Linked DNA regions of Homo sapiens. The protein of the gene in region 1 purifies or fractionates together with the protein of each later gene. This does not show direct contact. Each region holds a gene or a part of one and is shown on either strand. Other genes may lie near its edges.

Evidence for each region.
Region 2: the proteins of ESPL1 (region 1) and PPP2R1B purify together in Homo sapiens (co-immunoprecipitation; one study listed by IntAct). This does not show direct contact.
Region 3: the proteins of ESPL1 (region 1) and NHSL2 purify together in Homo sapiens (co-immunoprecipitation; one large-scale study listed by IntAct). This does not show direct contact.

The regions. Positions count from the first base shown.
Region 1 is NC_000012.12:53,271,208-53,274,858, reverse strand, and holds part of ESPL1 (separin), read right to left. Parts: intron 2,139-3,651; coding exon 2,002-2,138; intron 43-2,001; coding exon 1-42. UniProt on the Homo sapiens protein: Caspase-like protease, which plays a central role in the chromosome segregation by cleaving the SCC1/RAD21 subunit of the cohesin complex at the onset of anaphase. During most of the cell cycle, it is inactivated by different mechanisms.
Region 2 is NC_000011.10:111,749,362-111,753,012, reverse strand, and holds part of PPP2R1B (serine/threonine-protein phosphatase 2A 65 kDa regulatory subunit A beta isoform), read left to right. Parts: intron 1-680; coding exon 681-854; intron 855-3,651. UniProt on the Homo sapiens protein: The PR65 subunit of protein phosphatase 2A serves as a scaffolding molecule to coordinate the assembly of the catalytic subunit and a variable regulatory B subunit.
Region 3 is NC_000023.11:71,913,728-71,917,378, forward strand, and holds part of NHSL2 (NHS-like protein 2), read left to right. Parts: intron 1-3,651.

The DNA.
Region 1 (3,651 bases):
TTTCTTCAAACTCTCTACTTGTAGCCGGAAGCACCTGTGCAACTGACCAGAGAAAGGGAACAGACCAAACTGGAGAGGAACCAGTGAGTGTGTATGGTGGAAGGGGATATGCATGCAATAGGTACATACACCACATGAGGGGGCGGGGTTGGCAGGTGGGCCTCCTGAGCCACACCCACCCAAGGCAGGAGACACCTAAGAATGAAATACTCTGAGTGCCTTCAACTCAGAGGCTGCAATCCACTCCACCCCTATGTTCATCATCCACACCCTTGAAAACCTGCTTCTCCTGTAATCCTTCTCAGCAAATGGCACTGCCTTCTCCTGAGTAAGAAATGTGGGGCCATCTCTGATGTTCCCTTCTCTCGCTCTCCCTCCCGCCAGTCACCTACCAGGTTAATCCTTGGCTTCTCGCACCGATCCACTGCATTCCATCCCTCGTGCAGCTGCTTCAGTTCAGCCCACCCTTCCCTGCCTAGAATACTATAGCAGCCTGATTACCCGGTCTTTTCTCCTGCACTCCATTCATCACAGCGAAGTCAGGGAAATCCAAAATGCCTGTCTGCTGTCATGCCTCCACTTAAATCCTTTAGAGGCTTATCATCTCAGTTAAGATGAAACCCAAGCCCCTCTATGACTCATCTTGCTTGCCAATCCCGCCAATGCATCAGTTCACAGGTATTCTTGCTTAAGAACACTGGTTCTTGCCCAGCGCGGTGGCTTGCGCCGGTAATCCCAGCACTTTGGGAGGCCGAGGCGGGTGGATCATGAGGTCAGGAGTTCAAGACCAGCCCGGCCAAGATGATGAAACCCCCGTCTCTACTAAAAATACAAAAATTAGCCAGGCATGGTGGCGCATGCCTATAATCCCAGCTACTCAGGAGGCTGAGGCAGAGAATTGCTTGAACCCAGGAGGTGGAGGTTGCAGTGAGCCGAGATCGTGCCACTGCACTCCAGCCTGGGTGACAAAGCAAGAGCAAGACTCAGTCTCCAAAAAAAAAAAAAAAAAAAAAAAAAAAAAACCAAAAAACCAAGAACCCAGGTTCTCACTCTCCTTGCTCAAAGGACCACCTGGGGGATCTTTGAAAATATTCAGATGTGAGATGGAGTCTTGCTCTGTAGCCCAGGCTGGAGTACAGTAGCACAATCTCGGCTCACTGCAAACTCCACCTCCTGGGTTCAGGCAATTCTCCTGCCTCAGCCTCCAAAGTAGCTGGGATTACAGGCACATGCCACCACGCCTGGCTAATGTTTGTATTTTCAGTAGAGACGGGGTTTCACCATGTTGGACAGGCTGGTCTCAAACTCCAGACCTCAGGTGATCCACCTGCCTCAGCCTCCCAAAGTGCTGGAATTATAGGCGTGAGCCATCACGCCCGGCAAACACTAGAGATTCTGATGCAATTAACTCGGGGCAGACATTAGAATTTTCTTAAAGGTCACTCAGGTGATTCTAATGTGCAGCTTGGCTGGAAACCAGTAGCTTAGGACCAGGCTAAATATAAAAAGTGAGTCAGGCCGGCTGCGGTGGCTCACACCTGTAATCCCAGCACTTTGGGAGGCTGAGGCAGGCGGATCACCTGAGGTCTGGAGTTTGAGACCAGCCTGGCCAACCAAAATGGTGAAACCCCGTCTCTACAAAAAATACAAAAATTAGCTGGGCGTGGTGGTGGGCACCTGTAATCCCAGCTACTTGGGAGGCTGAGGCAGGAGAATTGCTTGAACCTTTGCTGAGGCAAAGGTTGCAGTGAGCCAAGATTGTGCCACTGCACTCCAGCCTGGGCGACAGAGCGAGACTCGTCTCAAAAAAAAAAAAAAAAAAAAATGAGTCAACAGTAAGTAACAGTACAGTGAGGTTTGGGAAACACTGCTCCAGATACTGGTGTCAACATGCTGCTATTAACCTCCCACTCCAAGGCAGGGTGCTGGTGAGGCCCTTCCCCGCTCCCCCCGCTCCCCAACCACATAAGCTCCTTTCCTGCATCTCTCATTCCCTTGTACCTTCTCAGGAGGCACCTCGGGATAAGTGCCTGGCTTCACCAAACCCAGGTGCTGACAGAGCGGCTCAGAGATGGCACAGGCCTCGGCATAGAGCTTGTGACTATAGAAGCTGTAGGCCAAATTACTGGTGTAAGAAGCTGCAGGGGAGAAAAGGCACAATTGACCATAGGAAAGGCTCCCACCACCCTCTCCTCCTGGAGAGGCAGCAGAGATCAGCTGGATCTGTGGTCAGTTCAGCAGCTTCCAGATCAGACAGGAACCCCTACTGCTAGGAATGGGGAAGGGGCGGCTCTCCCCTTCCTGCCCCAAATAGGCCCATGCCCTTCACACCACTCAGCCCATCTGCACTCATTTTACAAACGAGACCCCCTCCTGCCTCAGCACTGGCTGTTTCTTCTGCCAGGGATGTTCTTTTCCAGGAACCCACATGGCTGACTCCCTCACATCCTCCAAGCCTTTGCTCATGTCACCCTCTCAATGAGGTCTACCCTGACCACCTGATTTAAGGTGGTAACTTGCCCCCCGTCATGCACCTTAGACTCCCAATTCCCTTTCTTATCCTGCTCTACTTTTCCTTTCCCCCACATTTCTTATCACGTTCTAATATGTTGATAATTCACTTATTTACTGAATCTGTTTATCTTTTCCCCCCAAACTAGAACGTGGCTCCATGAGGGAAGGAAACTTTGTTTTGCTTACCGACACATCCAAGTACTCCAAATAGTGCGTTGCACACAGTGAGTACTCAACAAATTTTTTTTTTTTTTTTTTGAGACAGAGTCTTGCTCTGTCGCTCAGACTGGAGAGCAGTGGCACGATCTTGGCTCACTGCAAGCTCCACCTCCCGGGTTCACACCATTCTCCTGCCTCAGCCTCCTGAGTAGCTGGGAGTACAGGCGCCTGCCACCACGCCCGGCTAATTTTTTGTATTTTTAGTAGAGACGGGGTTTCACTGTTAGCCAGGATGGTCTCGATCTCCTGACCTCGTTATCCGCCCGCCTCGGCCTCCCAAAGTGCTGGGATTACAGGCGTGAGCCACTGCGCCCGGCAACAAATATTTGCTGAATAAATGATAATAACTTATTTATGCAGCTTCTTGGCCATCAACATAGATGACTGGGAGAAAATAAAGTCAGTCTTCAGTACTCTGTGGGAAGAATTCTCCTTTTTTTTTGAGATGGAGTTTCGCTCTTGTTGCCCAGGCTGGAGTGCCCTCTTGCCCAGGCTGGAGTGCAGTGGTGCAATCTTGGCTCACTGCAACCTCCACCTTGCAGGTTCAAGCGACTCTCCTGCCTCAGCCTACCAAGTAGCTGGGATTACAGGCATGCACCACCTTGCCTGGCTAGTTTTCTATTTTTAGTAGAGACAGGGTTTCAGGGAAGCCAAGGTGGGCAGATCACTCGAGTCCAGGAGTTCAAGACCAGCCTGGACAATATGGCCAGACATCATCTCTACAAAAAATACAAAAATTAGCCAGGCATAGTGGTGCGCGCCTGCAGTCCCAGCTACTTGGGAGGCTGAGGCAGGAGAGTCGCTTGAACCTGCAAGGTGAGCTCGTTGCGGGGCTGAGGTGGGAGGATCGCTTGAGCCTGGGAGGTTGAGACTGTGTTGAGCCGTGATTGTGCCAGTGCACTCCAGCCTAGGTGACAG
Region 2 (3,651 bases), on another chromosome or scaffold:
GGTCTTATTATTATCCCTTTTTGTTTGTTTGTTTGTTTGTTTTGTTTTTTGAGACGGAGTCTTGCTCTGTCGCCCAGGCTGGAGTGCAGTGGCGCAATCTCTGCTCACTGCAAGCTCCGCCTCCTGAGTTGATGCCATTCTCTTGCCTCAGCCTCCTGAGTAGCTGGGACTACAGGCGCCTGCCACAGCACCCAGCTAATTTTTTGTATTTTTAGTAGAGACGGGGTTTCACTGTGGTCTCGATCTCCTGACCTCGTGATCTGCCCGTCTCGGCCTCCCAAAGTGCTGGGATTACAGGTGTGAGCCACCGCACCCGGCCAATTATCCCATTTTACAGATGAGAAAGCTGAGGCATAGAGGGTTAAAGTAACTTGAGCAAGGTCTTTCAACAATGACAGATCTGAAATTTGAGTGCATCTGATTTAGTTCCAGAGATTATGCTCTTTACCATCTTACGGACTTTTCTTGTAGTCTTTAGTATTACGGACTTTTAATTGAAATTTCTGATTAAGATCATTTATGTTCCTTGAGTTATTTATGTATTCACTATTATTTCTTCAAGATTATCCATTTTTTTTTCACCTGAGTCTTACCTCACCTTTTATCTTACCCTGACAGGAGACTGTTGGGCAGAGTACTTGATTTTTAAATGTGGTCTTTTGGGGCTTGTGTACTTGCAGTGTCCTGACGTTCGTTTGAATATCATCTCCAATTTGGATTGTGTAAATGAAGTGATTGGAATCCGTCAGCTCTCTCAGTCTCTCCTTCCTGCCATAGTGGAGCTGGCAGAAGATGCCAAATGGAGGGTCCGCCTGGCCATCATTGAGTATATGCCGCTGCTGGCAGGCCAGCTGGTGAGTATGTGTTGCTCCATGAACTGCAGGGTAGTGTCAGATAGTGACAATTTACCATGGCAAGTAGGAGGCCTAGTAGCCTGTATGCTTATGTTTGTTTAGATGCATGAAAGTATGGCCTTGTTCTTGTTACCTATAGGATGGTTTTTATGTTTGTTAGTGCATACGTTTCTTTTCTTTTAAGATGGAGTTTCACTGTTGTTGCCCAGGCTGGAGTGCAATGATGCAATCTTGGCTCACTGCAACCTCCACCTCCTGGGTTTAAGCGATTCTCCTGTCTCAGCCTCCCAAGTAGCTGGGATTACAGGAATATGCCACCACACCCAGCTAATTTTGTATTTTTAATAGAGATGGGGTTTTACCATGTTGGTCAGGCTGGTCTTGAATTCCTGACCTCAGGTGATTCACCCGCCTCAGCCTCCCAAAGTGCTGGGATTCCAGGCGTGAGCCACTGCATCTGGCCTATTAGTGCATACATTTCTAACAAAAAGGTATAGGTTGAGTATCCCTCATCTAAATACGCTTGGGACCAGCATGTTTGGGACCAGAAGTGGATTTTGGAATATTTGCATTATAAATATTTACTGGTTGAGCAGCCCAAATTCAAAAATGCAAAGTCCAGAATGCTCCAATGAGCATTTCCTTTGAGCATCATATCAGTGCTCAAAAAGTTTTGGATTTTGGAGCATTTCACATTTTGGATTTTTGGATTTGGGATGCTTAATCTGTATTACAGAAACATATTTCACCTCATCACCACCGAAAAACAAAGCCATAGAATAATCAGTTTCTTGGTATATATAATGTAAATTTTATAATATTTAATGCCTTTGTGACTTAAGAAATGTTTAACTGAGAAGAAAAGGGATTATGGTTTTAGGGTAAGTCTGCTGTGATTTTTGCTCAAGGAAACTTCCCTGTTTGCCTTGTATTCTAAGCAAAATGTCCCTAGGTACCACTTGCCCTACATTCTGATTAAAGGGAGTTGAGGAATCACCATATAGAAAAGAAGTATTGAAAGGCCGGGCACAGTGGCTGACACCTGTAAACCCAGCACTTTGGGAGCCAGAGGCAGGCGAATCACTTGAGGCTAGGAGTTCCAGACCAGCCTGGCCAACATGGTGAAACCCCATCTCTACTAAAAATACAAAAATTAGCTGGGCACGGAGGTGCACACCTGTAATACCAGCTACTCGGGAGGCTGAGGCAGGAGAATCGCTTGAACCCAGGAGGCGAAGGCTGCAGTGAGCCAAGATTGCACTACTGCACTGCAGCCTGGGCAACAGAGTAAAACTTTGTGTCAAAAAAAAAAAAACAAAACAAAAACAAAAACTGAAGCTTGTAATGTTAGTATTTTGGTCAAAGTCCACATTATCACATTATCTGTTACTGTTTGAGTTTCGTGATCAGTGTTACCCTAACTAATACCATGTTAGTTAAAATTTCAAAGCTGGGTTTTATAGCCACATCCTTTCCTTTTTTTGAGTAGGTGGCCTAGACAGTTCTAAGTTTGATGTACCTTCATCTCTGTTGGTAGCACTTATTACAGAGTATTGTAATTGTCTGTTACAGTCTAGTTGGAGAGATGGGTGATCTCTTTTAGGGCAGGGACTGTATTTTATTTCCAGTCCCTACCATAGTGCCCGTCATTAATTAGGCACTTAACATTTTTTATTTTGGGGGCAGGGTCTTGCTGTTGCCCAGGCTGGTCTTGAACTCATGGCCTCAAATGATCCTCCTGCCTCGGCCTCCTGAGTAGCTGATAATAGGCATGAGCCACTGTGTATAGCCAACATTTGTTGATTGTTGAGTATTTTTTGAGAAAGATGTGTCAGTTTACTATTGACATCGCTACAGTTTGTTTCCCCTTCCTCACTCCCACTTCCATTCCTTTCAGGTCACAACATATGGAATTTATTTTTTCTTGTCTTGAACCCCTGAATTTGTATTTTTAATTTTAGTACATTTAGTTTATGAACATGCAATTTGTGGATGTCTGTGGCATTATATGTTTTATAAAATTGAAAGTGTCCGATTCTTTGAAAAGTATACCAGAGGTATTAGTGCATGGCAAATGGGATCAGGTGAAGTTATTTTGTCATCCTTTTTGTCTGTCACTCCCAAGTGCTATGGGTCATCTTCTCTTCACTGGTGATTGTCATGGATCTACTTTTCAGAGTGGAGAGGAGCAGTGATTAACTGATTTGCTGAAGACCAAAACTATCTGGAAGGGAGGGTGCATTTTAGTACCATTTCTTTTAACCTCTGCTCCTTCTAGACCTGGAAAGTTTCCCAGGGTTGCTAGCTCTATAGAGAGCAGTGTGAAAGCAAGGCAGATGGTGTCTTTGGCTGACTTACACCTGTCTGGCAGGGGTGACATGCCTCAGTCATGAACATTTTGCTTTACAATTTTAACTTCTTGTTAGTATATATATTCTCCTTAATTTCTCTTCATATCTAAATATTTTTATATCAGATAGTCATTTTATAAAATTCTCTCAAGACTTTATGTATGACCTGGCTTGTGGACGATGTTAAGTAAGTGTAAAGTTAAACTACAAAAACCGGAAAATAGGCCAGGCGTAGTGGCTCACGCTTGTAATCCCAGCACTTTGGGAGGCCTAGGTGGGTGGATCACCTGAGGTCAGGAGTTTGAGCCCAGCCTGACCAACATGGTGAAACCCCATCTCTACTATACAAAAAATTTAGCCGGGTGTGGTGGTGGGTGCCTGTTACTTGGGAGGCTTCTTGGGAGGCTGAGGCAGGAGAATTGCTTGAACCCAGGAGGCGGAGGTTG
Region 3 (3,651 bases), on another chromosome or scaffold:
TATAGCCTCCCTGCAGTGACAACTTGGCTGCCACTGACTGAGTAGTGGCAAGTCAGACTGGCCTATAGCCTGCAGGCTGGGCTGGGGCCCTGAGAAGCAGCAGGGGAGGACAGAGAGAGGAGGAGCGAGATAGAGGAGGAGAAAGTGGATGCTGAAGAAGTTGAAGGTGCTTCTCTACACAATCACAATCATGGGTCATGCCCCCACCATCTTCAAGGTTACAGGGGTGGACTGGGCTAGGCTAGTTGCCTCGCAACATCCCACCCACTCCACTGAAGGCTGTTCTTTGGTAACATGAACCCCTTTGAGACTGCCCTAAAAGCTCTTGTAACTGGTATGGTGTGGGAGATGGGGATGGAAGGAGGAGACGGTAGACCACAGGACTGCCGAAGGCCCCTGTGGTTGTGGATCTGTGGCAGTTGCCACACCCTAGGCATGGCCCTGCCTATAAGTTGAGGTTTTCCCCACATCTGGTTTTGAATGTGTCCTGTTTTATGGCATCTGTGGCCTGTACACTGGGTTCTTCATCTAAAAAATGGTGTAGTCAAAGCCATTGGGAAATAGCTCCATGCCTGCCACCATATGCTGAGTCAATCTAAGCTTTCCAACTTCTCCCTTGGAGATCTATATAATGTTTGTAGGTGCTTAGATGATAATTACAAAAGCAATCAGGCCATCCGCGTAGGGATATAATATCTCCTTTGCCATCAAGGAAGTCACTGAAGGGCTAGATAATTCTAGGTATGTTTAATAACACTGGAAAACTATCATGTTACACTAGCTCATGAACTTGCTGTGGGAAAGATGTTCTGTTGCTTCTTACAATTATTTTGGCTTGAATACAGCCAGTTGGGTCCGTGGTGAAAACTCCCTCTTCATCTTTATGTAAAATTCCTACTTCTTGATTTTCCAACTTTATGGCAACTCTGGCTCCAAATCAGAAAGGACAGCTGGTTTATTTGTGTTTAAATCATAATTCCAGTGTGAGGATAGACTGTTGTAAATCTATACGGAGATGAAAAAATGAAAAAAGCACCTCCAGACTGCAATGAGTTTGCCATTAGATGAGGTGTTGTGGACCCTGAGTCTGACCGTCCTTGCTAATGAAGAGAAGAGATGGCCTCTTGAGTCAGATGGAGTGGGGAGGGTGGCAGGAATTTGGGGACTTGGAACAGGCACTCAGCCAGGGCTTACTTTGTCTCTGTGGTACGTTTCATCCCGAGGCTCTTGGGACAGAGGGTTGACAGAGTATGGAGGGAGAAGCAAACCCATTTTCTTTTCTCTTCCCACCCCACCCTGCTTTCCATTTTCTTTTTAAATACCATGAAATTCCTGGTCTGCTTCATGGTATTTCCATGTGTTGAAAACATCTTCCCTGGAGATTTGGATACCAAAATGTCCACTAGAATTTCTTCCACTTTAGAAACAAGACATTTAATCTTCTCTTTTTTAAGACACATGAATAGCTAAAGTGATAAAAGTGTCAGGATGTTGGAATAGTAGAGTAATAGGAGAAGATTCAAGTTATGGCTCTTGGGCTCAACCTTGACCTTGACGACATTGATTAGGTTTTAGGAGGAGAGTGGTATATTTACATCATCTGTTCCTGTACCTCTCTGGTGTGGTACCAACAATTCAGTCATTAACCACCATATGTGTCATAACACTTGACATCCCGGACCCAGAAAGGGGAAGGTACCTGTCCAAAGGCACCCAGCTGGATCAAGACCTTCAGTAGTCATGAGTGCTGAAAAGATTTTAGTGCCTCCCCATATGTAATTCCAAGTGAAAGCAATACTAAACCTTTAAACAAAAATGTTACTCTTTTTAAATGGCTCAAAGCTCACATGGATGTTGAAATTAAAATATCTTACTAGATTCTTTCTCCCTTCCTCTCTGTCTTTTGTACCCCTGCTGTTGGTGGCCTAATCATGTATTTAATCTGCTGATTTGGGAATGTGGTACCGGCTGGGTCACACAGCAGGTCAGTGACAGGAGGCCTCCACCTAGAAGCCATGCCTTCTGACAACCAGACTAGTGCTCTGCCCTCTGCAGTGATGCTAAGTTCAAAGTCAGTTGTTCTTCGAGAGTCATTTTCTTGGCATTTTCTCTAGTTGGAACTTGTCCAGGATGAGAAATAACTCCTGTTACCTTTAGTAACTGAGGGCACCCTGTGGTTCTGTAGTTGTGGCCGGGGGTGAGCTGAAGCTGGAGAGGAGAAAGGAAGGTCAAACTTTCTCATATAGAGAATATAGAGAATAGGTGTGAGGCAACAGGCTCTCTTGTTAAAGCAAAACATAGTCTTCTTTGAATGGAAAATTGCTCCAGAAAAAGGATCTTCAGGTGGGAAGGGGTGGCTGGCCAGTGACCCTGACACTGTTGCAATCCCTCCTGATCCCTCTGCCATCTTTATACCTGTTCTTCTCCCTTGTAGCTTTCAATCCAGTTGTAGACACTACTTGCCACACACCTGCATCCTGACTATTTTCTGTTATTCTAGTAGAGGCTGGTTGGCATTTCAGAAGGCACCTTTTATTAAAAACCAATGGGAACAAGAAAGTAACATTATTACCAAAAGTGCATTTAGCATACACATTTACAGGGTATGGATTTCTTATCCTTCAGTGCTCAAGTAGCTTAACAGGCTCACTGGCTTTGCTGCTGTATTCCCTTTCTGAAGGCCTCAAATCGTCTTTTCCTTAGATCATTATTTTCTAGCCTCGAAAAGTGGGCACAACTGCGTCTGGACCCTGTCTGACCTTTGTGCTGGGTGCTAAAGACCCAGAGGTGAATAAGACCCAATGTCTCCATTCGAGGAGCTGCCAAGCTGCAGAGGTAGGTGCCATCTCATTCCTGACCACATCAGCATGTGGTGCCTGGGAATCAGGTCTTATTTAGGTGGAGGAGAGCTGATAACCAGAACCAGGACCCTAGTTCACATACCAGAAGATTCTTCTGCTCAGTCCGGTTTGGCGTCCAAAGATGGAATTTGGACTTTTAGAATTCCCTATGGTAAAAACAAAAATAAAAACCAATCTGTCATTCTGTTAGTGTTATTGTGAATTTAGCAATGCTTTTAAATGAATTTGCAGTTTTAAACACTATAATGTTATCTTCATGCATATGAAGAGTAGTGCTTATTCAGTCCATAGACAATGCTTGGTGGATCTGCAAACTAACAGACTTCTTGTGATAACTCTATGGTCCTCTAGAGTCCTCTACTGTCAGTTGGGAATCGCTGGCCTTCCTGGTTCAAGCTATCAGCTCTCCCCTGCTCTGTGGAACTCCACAATTTCACTCAAATAAGCCCTCATTGAAGTTTTCAAGTTAGAGGGCACAGGATGGCAATCTTAACAGTCAAGACTACTTTAATAATGCCACAAACAGGAGGTATGTTTATTAAGTGTACAGGTAGTTTGCAGTAAAGTGCTTTGTATGAGGTCATGCACAAGACCACTAGGTATCAGCCAGTTAACTTGGGAGGTTTGAGCAATTAGGCAGCTCTTCCTCCCTCCCTTCCTCTCTCCCTCCCCCCTCCCTCCCTCCCTCCCTCCCTCCTTTCCTCCCTTCCATTCCCTTCCTCCCTCCCTCTCTTTCTAAAATGTAAGCTCCTCAATAAGATATAAGCTCCTTGAGGGTAGTAGTCTTTAT